7 linked regions of the Homo sapiens genome follow. The protein of the gene in region 5 interacts with the protein of the main gene of each other region in a biochemical or structural test. Each region holds a gene or a part of one and is shown on either strand. Other genes may lie near its edges. The genes, in order: FRMPD4, SLCO1C1, MAP2K2, RASSF6, GIPC3, DGKK and DGKZ.

What was found.
Region 1: the proteins of GIPC3 (region 5) and FRMPD4 interact in a test that uses a peptide from one of them, tested with the Homo sapiens proteins (one large-scale study listed by IntAct).
Region 2: the proteins of GIPC3 (region 5) and SLCO1C1 interact in a test that uses a peptide from one of them, tested with the Homo sapiens proteins (one large-scale study listed by IntAct).
Region 3: the proteins of GIPC3 (region 5) and MAP2K2 interact in a test that uses a peptide from one of them, tested with the Homo sapiens proteins (one large-scale study listed by IntAct).
Region 4: the proteins of GIPC3 (region 5) and RASSF6 interact in a test that uses a peptide from one of them, tested with the Homo sapiens proteins (one large-scale study listed by IntAct).
Region 6: the proteins of GIPC3 (region 5) and DGKK interact in a test that uses a peptide from one of them, tested with the Homo sapiens proteins (one large-scale study listed by IntAct).
Region 7: the proteins of GIPC3 (region 5) and DGKZ interact in a test that uses a peptide from one of them, tested with the Homo sapiens proteins (one large-scale study listed by IntAct).

What each region holds. Positions count from the first base shown.
Region 1 is NC_000023.11:12,144,973-12,148,472, forward strand, and holds part of FRMPD4 (FERM and PDZ domain-containing protein 4), read left to right. Parts: intron 1-3,500. UniProt on the Homo sapiens protein: Positive regulator of dendritic spine morphogenesis and density. Required for the maintenance of excitatory synaptic transmission. Binds phosphatidylinositol 4,5-bisphosphate.
Region 2 is NC_000012.12:20,698,332-20,701,831, forward strand, and holds part of SLCO1C1 (solute carrier organic anion transporter family member 1C1), read left to right. Parts: intron 1-1,220; 5' UTR 1,221-1,245; coding exon 1,246-1,374; intron 1,375-2,986; coding exon 2,987-3,128; intron 3,129-3,500. UniProt on the Homo sapiens protein: Mediates the Na(+)-independent high affinity transport of organic anions such as the thyroid hormones L-thyroxine (T4), L-thyroxine sulfate (T4S), and 3,3',5'-triiodo-L-thyronine (reverse T3, rT3) at the plasma membrane.
Region 3 is NC_000019.10:4,093,123-4,096,622, reverse strand, and holds part of MAP2K2 (dual specificity mitogen-activated protein kinase kinase 2), read left to right. Parts: intron 1-1,173; coding exon 1,174-1,235; intron 1,236-2,124; coding exon 2,125-2,170; intron 2,171-3,500. UniProt on the Homo sapiens protein: Catalyzes the concomitant phosphorylation of a threonine and a tyrosine residue in a Thr-Glu-Tyr sequence located in MAP kinases. Activates the ERK1 and ERK2 MAP kinases.
Region 4 is NC_000004.12:73,585,937-73,589,436, forward strand, and holds part of RASSF6 (ras association domain-containing protein 6), read right to left. Parts: intron 1,999-3,500; coding exon 1,904-1,998; intron 1-1,903.
Region 5 is NC_000019.10:3,591,260-3,594,041, forward strand, and holds the end of GIPC3 (PDZ domain-containing protein GIPC3), read left to right. Parts: coding exon of another isoform or gene 1-2,029; 3' UTR 2,030-2,282; downstream 2,283-2,782.
Region 6 is NC_000023.11:50,464,326-50,467,825, reverse strand, and holds part of DGKK (diacylglycerol kinase kappa), read left to right. Parts: intron 1-3,500. UniProt on the Homo sapiens protein: Diacylglycerol kinase that converts diacylglycerol/DAG into phosphatidic acid/phosphatidate/PA and regulates the respective levels of these two bioactive lipids.
Region 7 is NC_000011.10:46,367,963-46,371,462, forward strand, and holds part of DGKZ (diacylglycerol kinase zeta), read left to right. Parts: intron 1-39; coding exon of another isoform or gene 40-42; coding exon 43-117; intron 118-1,531; coding exon 1,532-1,588; intron 1,589-1,978; coding exon 1,979-2,047; intron 2,048-3,350; coding exon 3,351-3,422; intron 3,423-3,500. UniProt on the Homo sapiens protein: Diacylglycerol kinase that converts diacylglycerol/DAG into phosphatidic acid/phosphatidate/PA and regulates the respective levels of these two bioactive lipids.

The sequences.
Region 1 (3,500 bases), on a different chromosome or scaffold from region 5:
GAAAGAAATGTTTCCAAAGTTTGAAAATGAAAAGTAATTTCCCTGCAATTACAATTTACTATAGGGTTTTAATTTTTATTTTGGTTATTTTTTATAGGCTTCACAAGTTTTATGAGATTTGCTTAATTGAAAATAAGAACATGATTACCTGACAAAGATGAGGTTCAAAGAAAGCAGTAGGCAAAAGTTCATAAAATTAATGGTAAAATTTTCCTAATGAATGTAGGAATGAGTGTATTTTTCTATTGAACTGGCACAGTTATTTATCTGGTCAGAGACTGGTGTGGGGGAGAACACGCGGCCATCTGGCTGATTCAAGGCTGTTGTATTGATTCAACATTGGATAACATACTGACCATGGTGATTTTACAATGGTTCCTGTAACTGGAGTCCTGGATATTTGTCTCTTTTGAAGTTCACGATCCAAGTCACCGGTCTTTACCCTAGTACAGGAGCAGTTAGCAGTCTCAGCTATACAGTGGTGGAGTCTGGAATTAGTTTTGGTGTAAATCCCAAACATGCCCAACTGAATTGTGGCTCAGGGCGATGTCCTGCTTCATGGCCTAGGGCCAGGGCTGGCAAACTTAACCCATCTGATGTGTTTACTTATTTTAGAAAGCTTTATGACCATTTTTATAAATAAAGTTTTATTTAAACACAGCCATGCCCTTTTGTTTGTATACTGTGGCTGCTCTTGGGAGAGTTGGATAGCTGTGACAGAAACCACATGGCTTGCAAAGCCTAAAATATTTACTCTCTGCCCTTTACATGGGTATTTTACTGTTCTTCTTTGATCTCTCTGCCCAGTACTCAAATTTCCCTTTGGGGCAGTCTGGGTGTCAGCCTTCTTTACTAGCAGGGGGAAGGATGGATATGGTTGGAGATTCACCCTGAACACAGTCACCCTTGCCAGCCCCGCTCTGGGGGACTTAAACTGTCAGCACTTACAATACCACTTGTAGGTTAACTTAGAAGCTTTGTAAAGTGCAAATTGGATCCTCCCTGTCCCCTCCGTCTACATACTTTTGAGGGGAAAATCCATATTCTTTATCCTTACCCTTTTGGGTTTGGCCTGATTCACTTGGTTCCTTTGAGAACTGTATTTCTCGGGCTGGGCGCGGTGGCTCACGCCTGTAATCCCAACACTTTGGGAGGCCGAGGTGGGCGGATCACAAGGTCAGGAGATCGAGACCATCCTGGCTAACACGGTCAAACCCCGTCTCTACTAAAAATACAAAAAAATTAGCCGGGCGTGGTGGCGGGCGCTTGTAGTCTCAGCTACTCGGGAGGCTGAGGCAGGAGAATAGCTTGAATCTGGGAGGCGAAGCTTGCAGTGAGCTGAGATTGCGCCACTGTGCTTCCAACCTGGGCAACAGAACGAGACTCTGTCTCAAAAAAAAAAAGAAAAGAAAAAGAGAACCATATTTCTCTGAACTTGTTATTCCTCCTTTCCAGCCTTAACTTCCTACTCAACACCAAACACACACGTGTATACACACACATACAGAGACACACACACACACACATCTACCCCTAACCATGTTGAATTTTTTAGAAGTCCTAAAAAGTGCCACACCCTGAGCCTTTGCATAAACTCTTCATTTTGTCTGGAACAATCTTTATCTTGCCTCCTTTACACCTGAAAAATTCCTATCTGTCTTTTATATTTCAGCTTTTAATCTAAGGTTGTTCCATGTCACCTTCTCCAACCTCCCAATCCTGGGTTAAATAGCTCGACTGACATCTTTTATTAGCGAAGATAATTTCACTGCTTTAACAGATCAATCCCTCAATTTTTGTGGCCCATCTCTTGTTTGCTTGATACACAAAACAGGCATTCCTGATGGTGTGGGGGAGCTCTGATATGCTCAGCCATTCTGAGAACCTGTAAGATAGGACTATCTCATCTTCAGTATGCTATCGAAGGTTTCCTGCACATCAGTGTTCAGCTGACAGATGAGGGGAGAGAATGGTAGAAGATTGGGTGACAGGTTTTTAAGGGCTATGCCCAGAATCAAAGTATACCATTCTACCCTCATTCCATTAGGCAGAACTCTGACCCTATGTAACTGTGAGGCAAGCTGGGAAGTTTAGTGCCACTGTGTACCCTATCTGTGCTGGACATGTCATGCCCTGCTCTTTTCACAACATTTCTTCATTGTGTGGTAGATTGTAATTTTGTTCCCAATTCTTAAATCTTCCCTGAATCCAAGCCTTTTCCATGTGACATTATAGTTCTACTTCCTAGAGGTAGAGGGTACCTCTTTGCCCCATTGCTGTTGGGCTTGGCCAAGTAACTTGCTTTGGCCAGTGGAATATGGACAGAAGTCACAGGGTATCTGTTTTGGTACAAGTTTTTGGTAGGAGAATGCCTTTAAGGTATTGTACGTTTCTAAAAAAGAATGTAAAAAAGCAAAAAGCTCTTAACATTGCTATATGAAGAACTGCCTAGTTTAACCTGTTGGTCCTAGAAGCTAGATTCACATGGACCAGCACCATCAGGCAAACCTGTGAGCATGAAAACAGATGCTTATTCTTGTATGACACTGTGTTATGCAGCATTGTTGTGGCAATGGCTGACTGGTATAGATGGTATTATAATTGAGTCCAGTTTTGATCTGTGTCTCATTTATGAACTCTTCAAGGGCAAATCCCCTGGTATTAAACCTCCTTGGTTTATAGTAGATTTAAGGATACCTTGTTTCATTGCACTCTGGTTTATTGGTGCTTTATAGATACTGCACTTTCTACAAATTGAAGGTTTGTGCCAACTCCACATCAAGCAATCTGTCAGCACCATTTTTTCAACAGCATGTGCTCATTTCGTGTTTCTGTGTCATATTTTTCATTATTATTATTATATCTGTTATGGTGATGTGTGATCAGTAATCTTTGATGTTACTATTGGAATTGTTTGATGTTACTATTGCAATTGTTTTGGGCTGTCATGAACCACACATATAAGATGGCAAACTTAATTGATAAATGTTGTGTGTGTTCTGACTGCTGTACCAACTAGCCATTCCCTCATGTCTCTCCCTTTCCTCAGGCTCCCCTGTTCCTTGAGACATAACAATATTGAAATCAGGCCAATTAATAACCCTACAGTAGCCTGCAAGTGTTCAAGTTAAAGGAAGAGTTGTACATCTCTCACTTTAAATTGAAAGCCAGAAATAATTAAGTTTGGTACGGAAGGCATGTTGAAAGCTGAGATAGGCCAAAAACTAGACCTCTTGTGCCAAACAGTTCGCCAAACTGTGACTACAAAGGAAAAGCTCTTGAAGGAAATTAAAAGTGCTACTCCAGGAAACACACAAACGATAAGAAAGTGAAACAGCCTTATTACTGATATGGAGAAAGTTTGAGTGGTCTGGATAGAAGATCAAACCAGCCACAACATTCCGTTAAGCCAAAGCCTAATCCAGAGCAAGACTCTTAACTCTCTTAAATTCTGCGAAGGCTGAGAAAAGTGAGGAAGCTGCAGATAAAACGTTTGAAGC
Region 2 (3,500 bases), on a different chromosome or scaffold from region 5:
GCCTAATAATAATTTTTTTGAAACCAGACCCTTGTCTCATCCTTTCCTTTAGTCAATTCCCACTCCCTAGAGGAATCCACTTAATTTTTAAATTGTTGAAGTCCTCTGATGTTTTAACTTCATATTATTAATACAAAGCAAATCGTTTATACTATTACTTGATTTTTCAGTTTGAGAAAGTATGAATTGAAATGGTGAGGGATGAGGTTTAGTGAACACAAAACAAGCATTGCATAAAGTCAAGGTGATATACTCAGTCAGAATAGATTTCTGCCACAATACATGAAATTTGACTCCTAACATTATTCCTTTAGGAATAACATTATTCCACTCCTATTATGTGGATATAGAAGTCCTCTATTAATGTACAATTGGGTCATCTGATAATATTAGGGAGATTGAGAAATACTTTGTTTGTTGAATTCCTTGATTTAGGTTAGATTATCAGGCAGGCACTGAGCCATGTGGAATCCTAAAGAAGTAGGGGCACAGGATATGTAAATATTGATGTGAACAGGGAGAAAATAGGTTCAGTGTGTGATCCTGTCCTGTGAGGGGCGGTGGGAAATTGAGCATGGGAAGCAAGGCTGTCTTTTTTACTTTAAGGCTGATCAAAGACTGTTCTTTCACCTGAATTAAATCTAAGGCACAAATCATGTTGCTCCCTTATTTATCAAACAAAAACAATACACAAATTGGACCTCTTCTTTTTTGTCATATTTTAAGGCTCACATTGGGTGCTACAGGAATCATAAGGTGGTACAGGGACCTATAATGAATGTAAAACTTCTATTTGTTTTGCTAAGAAGATAGATTTAAAGGCTTTAAAGACTTTATCCTAATGAATCAATATTCAAATAGTTGAATTCCTCTTCTTCCTTTCCTGCTTGCTCCTAGTTTAAACTGGCAAGACCACAAAGTTAGCAAAATTCTGCCTCATTATTTATTCCAAAGGCAACACTTAAATTTATTCTTTGCCATAATGAGGCTTAAACTGGGCAGATTGAGAAAGAATGCTGGCTACAGAGTTCCAATAGCAGGATTAGTTAATCAGATATCCTGGTTGATTTTAATTGAAAACATTTGCCAACTTACTGTGACAACAAAAGGTAGATTCACTTTAAATTGCGTCTATAGAATTGTGGTATACTGTTGAATAAAAAAATTTAATAAATTGCGTAGTATTTATTTATTTTTACTTTAAAAACTAACTTTGACAGATCAGAGTCAAGGAATGTGTTTATAATGGACACTTCATCCAAAGAAAATATCCAGTTGTTCTGCAAAACTTCAGTGCAACCTGTTGGAAGGCCTTCTTTTAAAACAGAATATCCCTCCTCAGAAGAAAAGCAACCATGCTGTGGTGAACTAAAGGTAGAGCAACCAAGAAGTAAATAGTGTTGATGCTCTTAGTTTTCTGTCCAGATATCATCTATATAATGAAGTTAGAATGAGAATTGTTTTCTCCTTTAAAAAAAAAAAAAGATCTTAGATGCAATTTACTAAAACCACACCTTGCCAGGCGGTGCAAGCAATCTCTACCTGACCATGTGGGTTAAATTACTTTCCTGGGCTCATTTAAATGCCCCCCCAAACAGAAAAGAGAGAAATAGTAGAAACTAGTATTTATTGAACTTCTGCCATGTGCCAGATATTAAGCCAAGCACAGATATAACATTTAATTTGTGAAACATCACATTACTCCCATTTTGCAAATAAAAATGGGAATAATGTTACAGAGTAGGGAGAAGAGTTGCTTTTTTTTTTTTTTAGGATTGTTGTATCAAACAATAGTTTTTAGTTTTTTGAGGAACCTCCATACTATTATATTTTCCAAAGAGACTACATCAACTTATGTAACCACTAACCATGTACAAAGATTCCCTTTTCTTTACATTCTAACCAGTTTTTATTTTTTGTTATAGCCAACAGATGTGAAGTGATATGTCATAAAGATTTTTATTTGCATCTCCATAATGACTAGTGATGTTGAGCACCTTTTTCATATACCTGTTGGCCATGCCTTCTTTTAAGTAATGTCTATTTAGATTATTTGCCCATTGTTAAAATCATGCTATTTTTCTTTGCTATTTAGTGATAGAAGTTTCTTTTTTTTAATTATTTTTTAATTATTATACTTTAAGTTCTAGGGTACATGTGCACACGTGCAGGTTTGTTACATACGTATACATGTGCCATGTTGGTGTGCTGCACCCGTTAACTCGTCATTTACATTAGGTATATCTCCTAATGCTGTCCCTCCCCGCTCCCCCAATCCCCCGAGAATAGTTGTTTCTTAAGGGATGCTTTGTGTGCTCCTATTCTTTCTTTATACAAATATTCACTCAACAAATCTCTGCTTTTTTCATATAAATGCTAACCTTCCCTATGAATGTTCTATCACAGACCCATGTCTATCAAAATATATAAGCTAGATATCAAAGACATGTTTTCCATTGAGAAAAATATTTGACTATGAATTTAATAAGTATAAACATAAACACAAGGAATAATAGTTGCACTTTTTCAGTCTGTACATTATGTTCCCGGCTGGTGCATGCACCACCCTGTGAAATACATAATCCCAAGTGCTGGACTTGTTATAGGATGTCAAGTGTTTGGCTTATGGTTTCATTTACTTTCTTACCAATGAATGTCTCACCATACACTGACTCTTCAATGTAAGACTCCTTTGAGTGCCCCTCTGGAGCAGAGTGGAAGAAGACAAAAGATAATTCAATACACATTTCGCATAAAAACCAAATATATATTTTAAATTCCAAGAGAATTTGAACTGTTGAAAACTTACAGTGCTTAAGGCTGATGGAAACCTCGAACAGTGTTTGAATTAAAGTTTCAGTGATAATAAAGTTGATATTATACATTGTTCTTTGTTGTTTGTTTTGTATTTGTTTGTCTATTTACTTAGTTTCCAATTGTGTGTCAAGCTGGAGTCAGACTAAGTGTGACCTGTCATATTTTCCAGGTGTTCTTGTGTGCCTTGTCTTTTGTTTACTTTGCCAAAGCATTGGCAGAAGGCTATCTGAAGAGCACCATCACTCAGATAGAGAGAAGGTTTGATATCCCTTCTTCACTGGTGGGAGTTATTGATGGTAGTTTTGAAATTGGTAGGTATTACAGATGCCTGACTTTAATTTTAAGCCCAAGATCTTCTAGGTGTGGCTAAAGAACACCTTCTGCATTCTATTGTCTGCTGGGATCAGACTCTATTCATAAAATCTTTTTTTTTTTTTTTGGACAGAATTTACCATGATCTTATTCTACAGGAGAGGCAATTTTCTCAGAGCAATCAACAGTAAATTTTTCTCCCCAGGTGTTTGGTATTGTATGGTTCACACAATTCAGAGTTCTACATCAGAGTAAGTGACTTTCTTGGAGGAAAGGGTGAGATGCTAATTGGTATTTTGAGTTATAAATATGTAGAAGTATCTTTACAGAAGAACAATACACCCTGGGAGCACTATGATTCAATTTTAGAG
Region 3 (3,500 bases), 500 kb from region 5:
TGTAGGTCCCGGGGTGGCTCCTGCTCCGTCAGTCCCCATAACAACCCAGTGAGCCACAGTATGAGGGTTTCCACCGCCCAGATGAGTAAAACAAGGCACAAGGAGGGACGCGGCCTCCTTCCAGGCCTGCAGCTGTCAGGGAGGCACAGGACTGCACCCCAAGGTCCTGTTGGCCACGTGACCAGGCCGGGCCACCTCCCTGGGCCTTCTGTGGGTTTCTGTGTCTTTGGTGGCCCTTTGGAGCTGGGGCAGAGAAACGGGCATTTGAGCTGCCTGCAGACTGGGCTAGGCCTGGGGTTGGGTGGCGAGATGATGACGGAGCCAGGTGGGGTGGCCCTGGTGACCCAGCTCTCCCTGCACCTAGCAGCCACACCCATGCCCAGTGAGCACATCCCCCGACCTCTCCCCCGCCTCTTCCCGCCCCTGCCCCTGCGCGGGAAAGGCCTGCCCCTGCCCTGCTGGCACCGCTTACACGGCCACTCCCGCTCCGGGGACGTGTGTCAGGCCAGGCTCCCCAGTGCTTGGGCTTAAAACTGTGGACCCAGTTTGGCCGGGCACGGTGGCTCAGGTGTGTAATTCCAGCACTTTGGGAGGCCACAGTGGGTGGATCACCTGAGGTCAGGAGTTCGAGACCAGCCTGGCCAACCTGGTGAAATACCGTCTCTACTAAAAATATAAAAATTAGCCAGGCGCAGTGGTGGGCACCTGTCATCCCAGCTACTCAGGAGGCTGAGGCTGGAGAATCCCTTGAACCCCGGAGGTGGAGGCTGCAGTGAGCCAAGATCACGCCATTGCACTCCAGCCTGGGCAACAGAGCGAGACTGTCTCAAAACAAAATAACTTTGGATCCAGATGTCCCTCTGTGGGGCCCAGTCCCAAAGCTCATCCTTCAGCCAGTGACACTGGGGAAGGAAGCAAGTGACGACACTCGAGAGGTTGTCCTGTTGATAAAAGGGGGACGCACCCCACTCTTTCCCTCTAAGCAGCCGTGACTCTCAAACGAGAGCTTTCGGGAGAAGGCCACCTCTGACAGGGTGCAGCCCAGTTGGCATGTGGTGTCGGCCAGGCCTGCAGGGTGGGTGACCGGACAGGACAGTGAGGGGTAGAGAGGGCTGCAGCCGAGGGTCCCTGACGATGCCCAGGGCTGACCCCACCCTCTGTTCTCCTCCACAGCCACCTCCTAAGCTGCCCAACGGTGTGTTCACCCCCGACTTCCAGGAGTTTGTCAATAAATGGTAGGTGGAGCCGGGCTGCCCACACCCCTGGCCGGGACCCAGATGTGCCACTCCTTCCGGGTCCTGGGTGGGGCCCGTGGCCCAGCCTGCCCATCCAGAATCCCAGTGCAGCGTTAGGCAGGACTCAGCCCAACGGGAAGCCAGATTCCTTTTCCCAGAGCTGTGGGGCTGCAGCTCCCGGCTGCCATGCCATCCTGTCCGTGAGCCCAGGGGTGAAGCAGGATTGCAGGCCCTGTGCACATGACGGTGTCCCCAGCTCACTGTCTGCAGCAGGAGAAGCCTCTGTCTGGTCCCCGGACCCCTGGTGTGCTGACTGTGGGCTCCCCGGGATCCGCCCGCAGGTTCTGGGAGGGTCGCCAGCCCCACTCCATTCTCCTGCCCCCAAGCACCCAGCAGCACCTGTGGCGTGGGCTTCACAGGCATGTGCCGCAGACCACGGGGAAGGAGCTGCGGACACCCCGCTGCCCACAGGGCCGGTCCATGTGTGTGAGCTCGGGACGCCGTGGAACGGCACCGCACTCCTGGTGCCGGAGTTGCCCCGGGCCCTTGGCGTGCGCTCCGGCGATGTTGCCCCGGGCCTGGGGTTTTATTAGACAGTTAGCTGGGGTTGCGTCCAGGCTTCTGACCCACCAGGCGGGGTTTCCCACCCTCTTTCCCTCTCACCCTCCCGCTGGGGGGTGTCCTGCCCCTGGCACCAAAGTGCAGAGGTGGATCCCTCGTCCTCTGCCAGGAGGCAGAACAGAGCAGCCACTCTGTGCCACTCTCTCTGGTCGGAGAGATCCAGGCCCCCTCCGACCACGGCCCACACGCGGGTGCCCCGGGGCCACCAGCTGACTGCCCTGTCTTGTCTCCTCCACCGCCTCCCGGTCCTGCCTCTTGGAACCCCCAGCCTCATCAAGAACCCAGCGGAGCGGGCGGACCTGAAGATGCTCACAGTGAGTGATGCCAGCGGGTTCTGGGACCGGGAGGGTGCAGGCTGCCACCCAGGCCCCAGGAAATAAGGCTGCTGGGCCTGGCCCTGCCCGGGGAGCCAGCACCTGCGACCAGGATGTGGGCAGGCCGGGTGTGCCAGGCCACGCCGAGGACCCTCTGTGGGTCTCTCTCATCCATGAGAGAAGCCATCCTGGGCTGGCTGCGGGGAGCAGAGGGTGTGTGCGTGGGAACAGCTCTGGGCTCTGAGCTCCGCCGCTCCTGCCTGGTGCTGGTCCCGCACCCACAGGATGAGACCCCGGGCTTCTTTGCCCTCATGAGAGGCTGGAGGCAGCTCTCAGCCCCCCAGGCTCCTTTCCCTGCAAACTAGAGGGTGACCATCCCTGTTCTGCACACTGGCAAGCAGGTCCCCCGAGGCCGTGCGTACTTCGGTGTCCCCTTAAACCCCCATCCTCTGATATCCTCGGAAGCCCAGCTGTTCACCAAAACTCGCCTCCCCAGCGGGGACTACACCCTCAGAGGAGGGCCCCGGGCATCATCCTCCTGCCCTCAGCCCAGCCTGCATCCCGAGTGCTTTCCCATACCACAGCCACCGTCAGCGACCTTCAAACCCCTCGACAGCTGATTGGCGGATTGGAGATGCCACCCCCCTAGACAGCCCGTTACTTTCTGTGCCTGTAAGAAAAGAAGAGATGCCAGCTACAGACACCCAACCGGGTGCCTTCTAATACTGGAATGTGGCTTTCAGTTTTGTTTTTTTCTTGAGAGTCGGACAGAGTCTCACTCTGTCGCCCAGACTGGAGTGCAGTGAAGCAATCTCAGCTCACTGCAGTCTCAGCCTCCCAGGCTCACACAATTCTCCAGTCAGCCTCCCAGGTAGCTACGATTACAGGCACCCGCCACCACACCCGGCTAATTTTTGTATTTTTAGTAGAAACAGGCTTTCACCATGTTGTCCAGGCTGGCCTCAAACTCCTGACCTCAGGTGATCCACCTGCCTCAGCCTCCCAAAGTGCAGAGATTACAGATGTGAGCCACCGCACCTGGTCAAAAAAATTTTTGAGATACAGCCTTGCTCTGTCCCCCAGGCTGGAATGCAGTGGTGCGATTGTAGCTCACTGTAGCCCCAACTCCCGTGCTCAAGTGATCCTCCCACTCAGCCTCCTGAGCAGCTGGGGCTACCGATGTGTGCCACCAAGCCCAGCTAGTTTTTGTGTGTGGGTTTTGTTTTTCCCCGCAAAGATGAAGTCTCACTCTTGTCACCCAGGTTGGAGTGCAGTGGTACGATCTCGGCTCACTGCAACCTCCGCCTCCCAGGTTCAGGGAATTCTCCTG
Region 4 (3,500 bases), on a different chromosome or scaffold from region 5:
CTCGTCATTTAGCATTAGGTATATCTCCTAATGCTATCCCTCCCCCCTCCCCCCACCCCATTATATGTTGGCCCAAGTTCTTTGGAGCTTTTCCTAAAAAATAAACACTGGGCCTTAGTTTTCCTATAAAACTACAGAAAGCTCTTTGAGAAGCTATTTATATGGTATGTGGAGCATTGAAAGATTTTGTTCCCATCTTTTATAAAAGCAAAAGGAATAGTATGCTTTGGACTAGTCCTACTATTTGTAATATATCACATTATGTTCTTTTTAGAACATTCCAGATGTATGATATGAATGACTTTTTCACTTAGTTGTCCACTATCCTATTATTTCTTCTCATTGAGTCATGTATATTTAACAATGATTCATAATTGATTAGTCAAAATTTGGTTACTGAATTATTACAATTTCTATAGCAGATTTTAGAGTATAAAATTATAGTGTAGCGTTGAACAACTCTAGTATCTATTGAGTAGGCAGAAGGTGTTTAAATGGAATTGAATTGAGCTACAATGTGTTACTAGCCTAAGATGCAGAAGATTCAAACCTGCCTTCTGCCCCCCTTTCTGCTTGTATACAATTGATAGTACCTTTTTCAATTTCCTCTCCTATGCATATTCATATGTAAGAATAAGACCATGTGGTGGCATTTGTGTTTTATTTTACTTTAGGATTTTAAAAAATTTTCTACTGTAATTAGAACATTATCAAATAGGCATGAGATATTTCTTCCTTCTCTAGCACTGCTGTTTAAATACAAATATATTTTTATGATGTCTTTGATGCCAAGATACTGGGATTTCCTTGGGTTTCATATATATTTCTAAAAGATAATTGGAAGGGCCGATATTTAACAAGATGTAAAGATCCCATGGCATAAAGAGAAAAGGGAACCCTGGAAGGAACATCATGTTTGTCACAGGATCTGGGTTCCTGTGGAATAGCAGACGAGGCAGAATTGAGAATGATTTGAAAAAAAAAAAAAGAGAACAAACATTGCAAGTTGCTGGTAGGCTTATGAAGTTAATGCTAGTGGGATACCTTTGTTCACACTGAACTGACTTCGTAAATCACAGCCCCATTTCAGGCACATGAACCCTGTCCACCACCCCTCATTCTAGCTTCAGTCATCAGCATCCACTACTCTTTGAATCTTATGTGTTTATGAGAATTACATGAAAAAATTCATATAAAGTACAAAATATTATGCCTGATACTTACCAGAGTCTCATCAGATTACAGCTATCAATATCACTATTATTACTCTCACATCATCACCATTATGATTATAACTACTAATGTCACACATCCCTGGAGCTGGCATTTCCCATTGGTTTGCCAAGTTCAGTATGGATCCATTTGATCCTTAAGTATATTTCTCTTTTAAAAAGATCTCTGAAATAACTCTATCAAATATAAAATTGACTCCAGCATATCTGTGTCTTTCTGAGAAGTAATGTTATTGACATATCTATTAACTAACTAAAACGTTCAACTTCTAAAAAGATACAGAATTAGGTCTGATGGGCTTGGCCTAACATATAAAGCTATTGGGAATAATAAATGACTCTAATCTTTGGGGAAGATATTTAACAATTTTATGAATACAAACTTTATTAAAACTATTAGCTCTCCCTATTCTAATAAATCTAAGTGACATAATATAATTTTTTTAAGAATTATATTTTTATATACCAAAGTAAGGTTCTTAAACATCATACAAGCACTATAGTGACTTAAGTTACTATGCTCCTAAGATATTTAAAAATATATATACATATAAAACAAGAGTTTATTGTGTAGTAGTATGAAAAAGGTTAGATTTCAGAGAAACATATGGAGTCATACTTTACACTAATTAAAAATTAAGTCTCCCAATCAATAAGATTTTGATACTGACCTTCCTGGGAATTCCTTTTTTCAGACATAGGAATCTGGGTCCTGTCCAGCTCACTAATACGATAGAGATCGTCAAATTCCCCCCAGCGTGTCATTCTGAGAAGTAATAAATCTTGTAAGTACATCAGTTCCATTTATATTGAAGCCTATGATGGTTTCCAGATTTACAATATTAATATAGTAATACTGTGGGCCTCTGTAGGTGGATATATTGTCCAAAGTTATAACAATTTTATGATATTATTAAAATTATATTCATACCAAAGTGGTCAATATATGTTTTAAATGCTTCCTGTACTTTTATAGAGCATATCTTTTTGACGTAATAATTCAGTTACATACTGAAACACAAGTTATATAGATTCTGTAAAACATATGTCCAAATTGAATTAGTAGAAACCAAGATGATCAATTGTTATAAAGATATTTCACAATACTCTTAGGGGAGCTTGGGTATAAAAGTGTTCTTTATACATTCTGTCAATATGTATTGTACCTTTTGCATTCAAAACATTGTTAGGTAGAGTGGCTCTAAAATAATAAAATATAGTGCCTATCGTTTAAGGCCCTTGACTACCATGAAGAATGTAGTTTACGAAGGAGGAAAATGTATGAGAATTTTGCCAGAAAATTATGATTTCATAAAGAAACTAGCAATTTTAAGTGCATTCTAGTGCTCAGAATACATGAAACCTGACAAATGTTTATTTTTACGGCAGGTCAAAACTCAATTTTATTTTATTTATCTGGTCTTAAACAAGTTTCTTATCCCCTCTGTGCCTGTGTCCTCATCTGTAAAATAAAAATGATAATAGCATGAGGTAGGATAGGGTTGTTTTGAGGATTAAAAGAGTTAATTTGTATAAAATTCTTGAATCAGTGCCCTGAAAATAGTAAGCATTCAATATAGATTAACAATAATTATAATTATCCTCATCTCCATTGTCATCATCATCATCATCATCATCATCATCATCATCACCAGCATCTGTATCTATTTCATTCCTGATGGGCCAGGAACCATTAGGGACCCAAGGTGTTCCTGGATCTCTCTAGGCAAATGGTTGCTATTATCTAAGAATCTCTTCAGTAATGTCTGTTTTTCTTATGACTAAAATATATTCACTTATAGGGAATTTATGGCATTGACTCTGCCCGAATTTCATTGGTGGCAACAAAAAATATTTATTAATACTAATGGTAGTGAATATGAAGAAAGTCATCCCTTATCCTCTTTACTTTTGAATTCTTTTGAAGCGTGTTTTATGGCTACTATATCATTTGAGTCTCACAATAGCCTTATGATGTAGAGAAGGTAATCCTAATATATTTGTTAATTTTCCAGCAAGCTGTACTATTCAGAATACAGCCAATCAAAACAAATGTCATAAAGCCCAACTACAGGTAATAACTTTAACTCAAAGGAAAACTACCAGGTCCTGACTCAGAATCTAATTAGTCTTATGGCAGATAAAATTACCCATTTCCCCAAATCTATAGCAGCTTAATAATCAGAAAGTGGCAGACATAATTATCGTAGAAGGGGGGTTAGGAATGGAAAAGTCAATACCAATGAAAAACAGAAACTAAAAATGCAA
Region 5 (2,782 bases):
CTCTGAAGCCCAGGCCAGCTCTGAGACGAAGCACATCTCTAGAATCCAGCTGAGCCCTGACAACAAGCCAAACTCTGGAACCCAGACACATTTTAAGACCCAGACCAGCTTGGAGACCAATCCCAGTTCCAGAATCCAGGCTAGCTCGGAGACCAAGCCCTGCTGGAAAACTCAAGCTGACTCTGGAACTCTGGACAGCTCCACGATGCAGCCACACCTGGACACTCGGTCTAGCTCCGGAACCCCAGTTAATTTTGGAACCCATGTGAGATTCATGAAGCAGCCCAGCTCTGGAACCCCAGTCAGCTCAGGATTCAGAGACAGCTCCCAAATCAAATCCTATTCAAGAACTCAGACCAGCTCAGAAACCCAGGTCCACACGGCTGCCCAGTCCAGATCCCAACCCCAGTTGCATCCAAGTGCCCATCCCCATCCTGCAGCCCAGTCCAGCTCCAGTGATGATTCCAGCTCTGAGACTGAGCCCAGCTCTAGAACCTCGCCTAGTGCTACAACCAGGCCCAACTCCAGGATTCAGACCAGCTCTGGAACCCCATCCATCTTGGAAGCAAGACCCAGCTCCAGCACACAGCTTGGTGCCAAGCCCCACTCTCCTTGCACAATGCAGCTCAGCTCTAGAATGCAGTTTACTTCCAGGACCCAGACCAATTTCAAGGCCTGGCCAAGCTCCAGAGCTCAATCCAGCCCAAGCACCGCACCCAGCTCTGGAACTCAGCTCAGTTCTGGAGCACAGGCTGGTTCTGAAATCCCAGCCAGCTCCAAAACACAGACAGCAGCTGAGACCCAGCCAAGTTCCAGAATCCAGCTAAGCTCTGGAGTCCAATCTAGTCCTGGGACCCAGGCCATCGCAGCAATAGAATTAAGCTCCACAGCCCTGTCTAGTTCCGACAGCAGGTCCAGCTCCAGGACCCAGCGCTGCCCAGGAGCTCGACCAGCCTCTGGGACTCAATTCGCCTCTAAAACCCTGCCAGGTTCTAGATACCAGCTCCAGACCACAGCCCCAGACAGCTCTGGTATTCAACTGGACTTTGGGAAGCAGAGCAGTTCTGAAAGTCAGCTTAGCTTTGGAACTCAGCCCAGCTCTGGGACCCAGATAAGCTCAAGAATTCAAGCCAGCTCTGGAAGTCAGCTTAGTTCGGGAACCCAGCTGATTTCCGGAGCCCAACCCAGCTCCAGAACTCAGACTAGTTCTGGAAACCAGCTCAGCTCCGGGACCCAGACCACTGCAAGAATTCAGCTCAGCCCTGGAGCTCATCTTAGCTCCAGAACCCAGTCCAGTCCTGAGACCAGGCTCAGCTCTGAGGCTCAGTCCAGCTCTGGAACCCAGTTCAGTTCTGGGATTCAGTTTGGCTCTGAAACCCAGACCGGCTCAAGAATTCAGCCCGACTCTGGAGCCCAACTTAGTTCCAGAACCCAGTCCAGCTCTGAGACCGGGCTCAGCTCTGAAACCCAGACCGGCTCAAGAATTCAGCCCAGCCCTGGAGCCCACCTTAGTTCTGGAACCCAGCCTGTTTCTGGAACCCAATCCAGTTCCAGAACTCACACCAGTTCAAGAATCTGGCTGAGCCCTGGAAATGGAATCTGCCCACAGACCCCTGGCCTTGACCCTAGAATCCAGCTTGAGGCCCCTGCCCCAGCCCAACCTCAGCCCCCAGGCCCATCCCCCAGAGACCCCACCCCAGCCCCTAGCAAAGACCCCCAGCCTCTGCCTCAGCCCCATGATCAGGTATGTGGCATCCAGGCCAGCCTTGGCCCCATCCCAGGCTTACCCCAAGCCTCCTACCTGGCCCCACAGTCACAGGTCTCCTCAACCCCCCAGAAGCCAGCCGTCTCTCCCAAGCCCCGGGTGGGACCCCAGAAGTCCACCCCACCCACCATATCTGTCACTCCTAGTCCTGCCCCTAGGGCAGCCCTCCTGAGTTCCCAGCTGTCTGAGTCCCCAGCTTTGGCGCCAGCCCTTTGCCCCACTCTGGGGGAGCCAGGAGCCCGCCCTTACCGCGGGGGGCCGTAGCTTGGCTGTGACTTAGCCCTGGTTCATGTGGTTCTCGTCCTCTCCTGTCCCTTCCAGCCTGGGGCCCCCAGAAGCAGCAAGTGACCTTATTTCTCCAGCAGGCGGTGGTAGGGAGTGTGCGGTGGTGAAAACAGGGGCTTCACCGGTCCTGGCTCAGATCCAGGTCCTTGGAGGGAAAAGGAGGGCAGGAGACGGGTTGCACCGCATGTACCCTGAGGGCTCATGGTGAATAAAGGCACCTTCCATCTCTGCAGCCTGGTGTGTCATTTTGGGGGAAGTTTGGGGGAATGCAGAGATGTGGGGCTGGGGGGCTGGCTGAAACTGTGGCAACACTGAATACCTCTTGAGCACCTACTGTGTACCAGGCACTTCATTAAGCACCGCACAGGCATGAGCTTACGTGCCTGCAGGCGACAGGTGCTCCACGAAGACCCAGCCACTGGTCCTTTCTACCAATATTTATTGAGCACGTACTATGTGCAAGGTGCTGTACAGAACACTGTGGTGTTTGAAAGGTTGCTGGGTGAACAAGTGAACAGTGGAGGAAACGGGCATCACTCCACGCTTTTGCATCTCTCTCTCTCTTTCTCTGTTTTATTTATTTACTTATTTACAGATGGAGTCTTACTCTGTCGCCCAGGCTGGAGTGCAGTGGCATGATCTCGGCTCACTGCAACCTCTGCCTCCTGGGTTCAACCAATTCTCCTGCCTCAGCCTTCTGAGTAGCTGGCATTACAGGCGCCCGCCACCATG
Region 6 (3,500 bases), on a different chromosome or scaffold from region 5:
ACCCTCAATGTTGCTATGCAATTGCTCTCTGGTGCAGCTGGGAACATCTGATCTTCAGTGATAGGATCATTCTCTCCTGCATCTTCCTCAGACAAATGGCACCTGCAACCAGCTGGCTTGTATCTTAACATTCAAGGCAAACAGGTTGTCATCTTAGCTGGGGTGATGTTGTTTTCAAACACTGCCTCCTCGAGGCAAGCTTGGGGGGAAAAAACTGTGCAACACGCACAGGCGTGCACACACCCCTAACACACACACATACTATACATATGTGCCCAAAATGTCAGGGAACAAAACAAAATACAGGTCTCATCATGCAATGAAATCCTCCATAGCAAGCATGAAACTATCCTGATAATTCAAAGGATGAAATGAGCAAAACCAAGTGTTTGAATATGACTGCAAGTTTCTCCCAGATAATTTTGTTGACTGGTATTGTAGCAAAAAACCAACATCTTTCAGCCTTGTAGTCTGCTCTTTTTTGGAATTTCAGGAAAGTTTCAGAACCTGCAATTGACTGAGAAAAGGGGGCTCATGTTTTCTTTTCAAATAGCTACCAGGATAACACAGTCAGTCTGTGAACCAAACATGTCTATTTCTTTCCTTTCTAAAATGTTTCAATTCCCAGGAAATGAGCCATGGTCTCCCACCTGGTGGCAGCAAGTGTAAGTAAGGATGTGTGAATTGGTTCTTTAGCAATGCTATAACTCTCTTGGGGGAGGGATGGGGCTTATATGAAGTAGACCATGTTTCTTTCTCTCTCATCAGCTGTGCTTGAAGAAAGACAAAATTTTGTTTATTCATTGGGTTTTGACCAGCTATGAAATGAAAATCACATCATACAAATGATTGATGAAAATCTGAGGGGAGATACACTTTCATGGCTTTTGGGGGAGATAAAAGGGGTCTGTGTATCCCTCCTGATGACTGCACAGTAATAACCATTATCCTCAAACCATATCAGGACAGCTTTTATGCACAAAACTGATATTTTTGTACATTTTCTTGCAAAATAGCAAGCATTTGTTTATATGATATCTGGTGATTCCTATCAATATTTTATTAGTGATTTCTGAGCTTCTCAAAAATAGGGGTGGCCTTTCTCAGTGCCTAGTTCAATGCAGCCCTCCTTGATTTTGCTTAATAAACACTTGCTGAAGCTTGAAAACTATCCATTTCCAGCAATGTAGAGGCTGCTGCTGTGAATGAATAAAAATTTGTTCTCATTGGTTTCAGAGTGAGAAGTAAATACTTATTTAAATGGCATGGAATATATAGCCCTTAAGGAAATACAGTCAATCTTTCCATTTTCAGAGTGGTTATTGGAACTATAATTAAGAAGCAAATTACTAACAATTTTTATTAATGGCTTGGAAAGTGTCCTTATCCCATGCAGTCCCAGCAGCAGCAGACTAATAATGATATTGTTAGCTTCAGGGGATAATAAATTTTTTTCCTAAGTGAACAGAGTATCTGCAGTGACTGTAAACAGATTTGGGATTATAGATTCAGATGTTTAACCTGTTGAAGGTCAGAATGAAATTACTTTCTTTTCTCTTCAGTTTTTCCCCCCTCCTTGCCAAGCTTTGATGATACCATCTGATTTATTTGGTGTATTCTAATAGTTCCTAAGCAGTCACTACAGGGTGTTCTAGAAAAGATAATGAAGTATTGGTCAGTGGTCTTTAGTTTCTCAGAGTACAATTCTTATGCACTTATTAAAATCTCCGACTAGGGCTTCTGCAGATCTGCAGCCCAAAGGGAAAGTGCCTCCAAGGAAAGGCAAAAAAAAAAAAAAAAAAAAAAAAGAAAAAAGAAAAAGAAAAAAATATCCATAGAAACCAGGAAACCATTCAGGGGTATTCTAATAAGGATTATATAGTTCCTTCTGCTCCTGTGGCACTTTACAGTTTACAGAGTGCTTGCCTCTGCATTATTAACCCTTTTATTTCCTTGAACAAGGCAGCAGGTGGGGGAGGGCAAAAATAAAACTTGACAGCTTATAGGATGTAATGATTGAATTTTCTATTGTAGATTTTTTTAAAAATCTGACATATGGCCTTTTGTGATACATAGGATCCTCATTTGTCTAAGAACAGTCTTTTAGCTGACATTTCATCAGCTCTGAATTTTTTTCCAAAGCGGTGGTTGCTGCTCCACTTCTGATGCTCCCAGAGGGGGCCAGCATAGAAGAGGAGCCAGAGAAGAAACGAGAAGAGGCAGAGACCCTGAACCGATTACTCACAAAGACCTTTTTTGTTGGTGCGTGTGTGTTTTGTAAAGGAAATAAATTGAAATCCTGCTAAGGATAGGGTGCCCGACCTTTCCAAAGCCCACCCACTGTAATTCTTTCAGTGGAAAAAAAATAATTTTAAAGGAAAAAAAAAAAAGCAAGCAAGCAGCCATTCTAAAGGGAGATGCCCCACCCTCACCAAAGCAAATAGAGCTCATTCTCAAAATAATAAAAACAAATTTATGAATTTTAAAAACGAAAAGAAAGGGACAGTGACCCCAGATAATGAAATTTATCTCTCCTCTGAAAATTATTTTAAGAAAAAAAAAGAAACAGCTTCTAAAAGGAAGTTATCCTCACCCTCATCAAAGCCCATGGAACTTATATCCCCCAAAGAAAAATTTTAAGATGAAAAAAGAGAAATCATCTTAAGTTAAACAGTATTTCTAACCTTAAAATATTCATGAAATTTGTAAACTTTATTTGACTTCATGGCTCATGCTTAATCTCTTGAGAAAATTAAGGGGGCAAAAATAAAGGGAAGGTCCCCCAACCTCATCAAAGCTTCCTGACATTATTTTCCCGATTACATAAAATGTGCAGAGGAGGCAAATCCTTAGAGATGGAAAGGAAATGAGGGAAGCAATATGGGAGGTGGAAAAGGGGATGATGGCTAAAGAGTACAGGGTTTCTTTTGAGGGTGATTAAAATGTTCTAAAATCAGAGAATGGTGATGGGTGCACAACACTGTGGATACAATAAAACCCACAAAATTGTGTATGTTAAGATGATGAATTTTATGGTATGTAAATTACATCTCAATTTTTAAAAATAGTTCAAAGAAAGATACCATCCCTCTAACCACAAGATAAGAGACCTATTATTCTCCCAAAAACAAAAAACAAACAAAATTGAAAAAAGGAACTAAAAGAAAGGGAGATCCTCTTAAAGGATCTTCAACCTCGCCAAGGATAATAACCTTTATTTGCCACCCCTTCAATTAAAAAAAAAGAAATTAAGGAAAACAAACAAAAAAAGGAAATCTTTTTAAGGGCAGATATTCTCAAAAATCATAAAAGTTAATGAAATTTACGAATCCTCCCCTCTAGATACACACATTTTAATTAAAAAAAGAAAGAAATATTAAAGGATAGGTCCCTGACTATACCAAATCTCCAGAATTTTTAATTCCAAGAAGCAGGGGCGCGGGGGGTGCGGGAGGGAGGGACAAAAGAAATACCACTCCTCCATGACTAAAGAGCATAAA
Region 7 (3,500 bases), on a different chromosome or scaffold from region 5:
TACCTGGTGCCTCAGGGGCCCTCTCTTCCTGTCCTGCAGCAGAAGTCAGTGTCTCGAAGAAAGTGCGCAGCCTGCAAGATTGTGGTGCACACGCCCTGCATCGAGCAGCTGGAGAAGGTGGGTGGGTAGCTCAGCTTTGCCCGCCCCTGCCCTTTGGGTGCTGAGGCCCTTTCAGCGCGCACTCACACCCACATGTTATACAAACGGCCTGCCAGGAGTGACCCAGCACTCGGGGGTGAAGAGTCAAGGACCCTGGAGCCAAATGCCTGCGTTCGAATCCTGGCTCCTCACTGATTAGCTGCTGTATCCCCACTGCCTGGAACAAACCTGGCGCCTAGTGGGTTCGTTGAATATCACTCAATGGAATGAATTGACGAATGGTGGCCCTTGTACCATTTCACCATGTCCAAACTAGTGCTTAGAAGAGGCCATTGATTTGCTGAAGCTTCATAACTCAGCTGTGGCTACACCCTGCCTCTGTGGAGACCTTTCCCCAAGGGCCATTGTCCACTGTGCATTTGCAGCTGGGGGCATGTCTGGGCACTGTGCTTCTAGAGGTGGAGGCAGCACTGGGCAGACGGGTCAAGGCCAGGGGCAGAAGGGTTCGCATGGAGGGGCAGCGCTTCCCAGCCTGCAGAAACCCAGGCCATCATACGGGAGAGACTGTAAGACTAGGAGTGGTTCAGGCAGGCTCACACAGGCTGCTTTCCCCAGCCTCTGAATTGTAAAGTGAGGCTTCCTTATACCTCTAATAAGGCTGAAGTAGGGACAGTTATGAGAAGGGAAATAGAAATGCAGCCCCAAGCACTGTACACTCATCATTTAAGGTGGAAATCGACCTAGGGTTCCACAAATTAGCTAAAGGTCTCCAGGGGCCAGGCAGTGCAAGTCTGCGTGTGAGGACCAGGCTGGCTGCGTGTGCCCGGGTCGGGAGTGCCAGAGGGCGAGGAAGAAAGGATGCGGCCGAGTGCGGTGGCTCATGCCTGTAATCCCAGCACTTTGGGAGGCCGAGGTAGGTGGATCACCCTGAGGTCAGGAGTTTGAGACCAGCCTGGCCAACATGGTGAAACCCCATCTCTACTAAAAATCACAAAAATTAGCCAGGCGTGGTGATGCACACCTGTAATCCCAGCTACTCGGGAGGTGGAGGTTGCAGTGAGCCGAGATCGCACCACTGCACTCCAGCCTGGGCAACAGAGCGAGACTCTGTCTCAAAAAACAAAAACAAAAAAAAAACAACGAGCAAACCATGGTCCCATGTTAGTGGGGGAGACGGACCCAAAGCTCCCAACCTCCCCCTCATCCTGGGTCCTGGGTGGAAGAAGGAAAGATCCCTCTGGCTAGTGAGGAGGAGGCAGAGAGGCAGGAGGGCTTCTCACAGGAGGTGTCTCGTGTTTCAAGGACTCTCGTGACGATTTGGGGGTATCCCCACCTTGTGAGGATGACTCTGGGTTGTCCTGGAGGGAGTGACCACATACCTGACCCCGAAGGGAGGTTCTGACATTTTGGTGGTCACTGCCATGTTTCACAGATAAATTTCCGCTGTAAGCCGTCCTTCCGTGAATCAGGCTCCAGGAATGTCCGCGAGGTAAGTGCCCAGGGTGGTCAGGGATGGGGCCACCCTAAGATTCCTGCATGGGCCTCTGCGCAGTGCCTCTGGAGTGCCACCAGGGGGCTCGGCTCCCTCTAGGCTGCTGCTCACTGAGGTCTGTCTGAGGTCTGCCATGCGGAGGCCTAACTAGCGCTGCCTGCGGAGTGGGTGGGACAGCTTGTGCCTCCTGGTGCTTCCCAGCCTTCTCTGTCCCTCTGAGTCTGAGCCTCCCCCAGGCCATGAAGAGAGTCTTTAGCCCCTCCTCCACTCATGCGCAGGACTGCAGAGCGCTTCCTGCAGCCCCGTGTGTTGAGCCGTGTGGGCAGTCCTCAGGACTGTGCCCCTGCCCACCCCTCACCCAGTGAAATTTTTCCCCTTCTCCCCCAGCCAACCTTTGTACGGCACCACTGGGTACACAGACGACGCCAGGACGGCAAGTGTCGGCACTGTGGGAAGGTGAGAGGCCCTGCCCGAGGACATCGCCACCTGCACCTGCGGTCCTGAGCCCAGGCCATGTGGCCGGTGTGGCCTGCCGATCACTGACCACACCCTGGTGTGCAGAGTCCGGGGCTGACCCTCAGCCTGGCTGCAGTGCCTTCAGTTCTCAAGCACCCTGGCCTGCTCTTGGTCTCTGGGCTTAGTAGGAGAGCAGGGAGGAAAGTTTTCTTCCCATGTGGCACACCTGGCCTGCTTTGAAGCTGCAAGTGGCCCTTTGGAGAATCGTATAGACTTACTCATTCGGTGACTCCATGGATACTTGTGTGCCGAGCGCCAAGCTGGGCAGCGGTTTCCCACCCTCCTGAGGACAGTGTGGCTTGAAGCCAGGCTTTCCAGGCGACCGCCTAACCCAGTCCACAGTTGTTTGGTTCACTTTCTTGTTTGCTTCTTGCCCGCCTCCCTCAGTAAGTGCAGGCTCTCAAAGATGGAGAGGCTTGCTTCACTGATTCTCAGCGCCTGGCCCACTGCAGGCCTTTCATAACAGCCTGTGTGATGAACAGGGAATGAATGTGATAGGTACTCGGAAGCGGCAGTAAATTTCTTTAACAGCACATGGGGGTCTGGTCAGGCCTCGGGGGTAGGAAGGAGGGAAAATCCGAGTGAGGCAGGAGTTAGCCTGCAGTGTGGCAGAACGGGTATGCATGTGGTGCCGTGCAGGTAACTTCAGGGAGTCAGGGGGCCCGGGCTAAGCCACCCTGCTCTTCAGGCTTATCTTATACATATTTTTTTTTATTTTAAAAAATGTGTTCAGACTGGGTGTGGTGGCTCACGCCTGTAATCCCAGCACTTTGGGAGGCTGAGGTGGGTGGATCACCTGAGGTCAGGAATTCGAGACCAGCCTGGCTAACATGGTGAAACCCTGTCTCTACTGAAAATACAAAAAATTAGCTGGGCGTAGTGGTGGGCGCCTGTAATCCCGGCCACTCAGGAGGCTGAGACAAGAGAATCGCTTGAACCTGGAAGGTGGAGGTTGCAGTGAGCCAAGATCACGCCACTGCACTCCAGCCTGGGCAACAAGAGCGAGACTCCATCTCCAAACAAAAACAAAAAATGTGTTCAAAGCTGGGCATGGTGGCACATGCCTGTTGTTCCCAGTTACTTGGGGGGGCTGAGGCAGATTGCTTAAGCCCAGGAGTTTGAGACCAGCCTGGGCAACATAGCGAGGCCCTGTCTCTGGGTGGAGAGAGGCTGGCACCAGGAGAGGGGCTGGGTCTGCTGCTCCACGCCTGCCCTGGTTCCCATCCATCCTGTCTACCCTCAGGGATTCCAGCAGAAGTTCACCTTCCACAGCAAGGAGATTGTGGCCATCAGCTGCTCGTGGTGCAAGCAGGCAGTGAGTGGTGCCCCCGCCCCCAGGGCCAGGCCCTGCACTGCTGGGTTTGGGTCCCCGAGTCTGAACACGGTCCCGCTG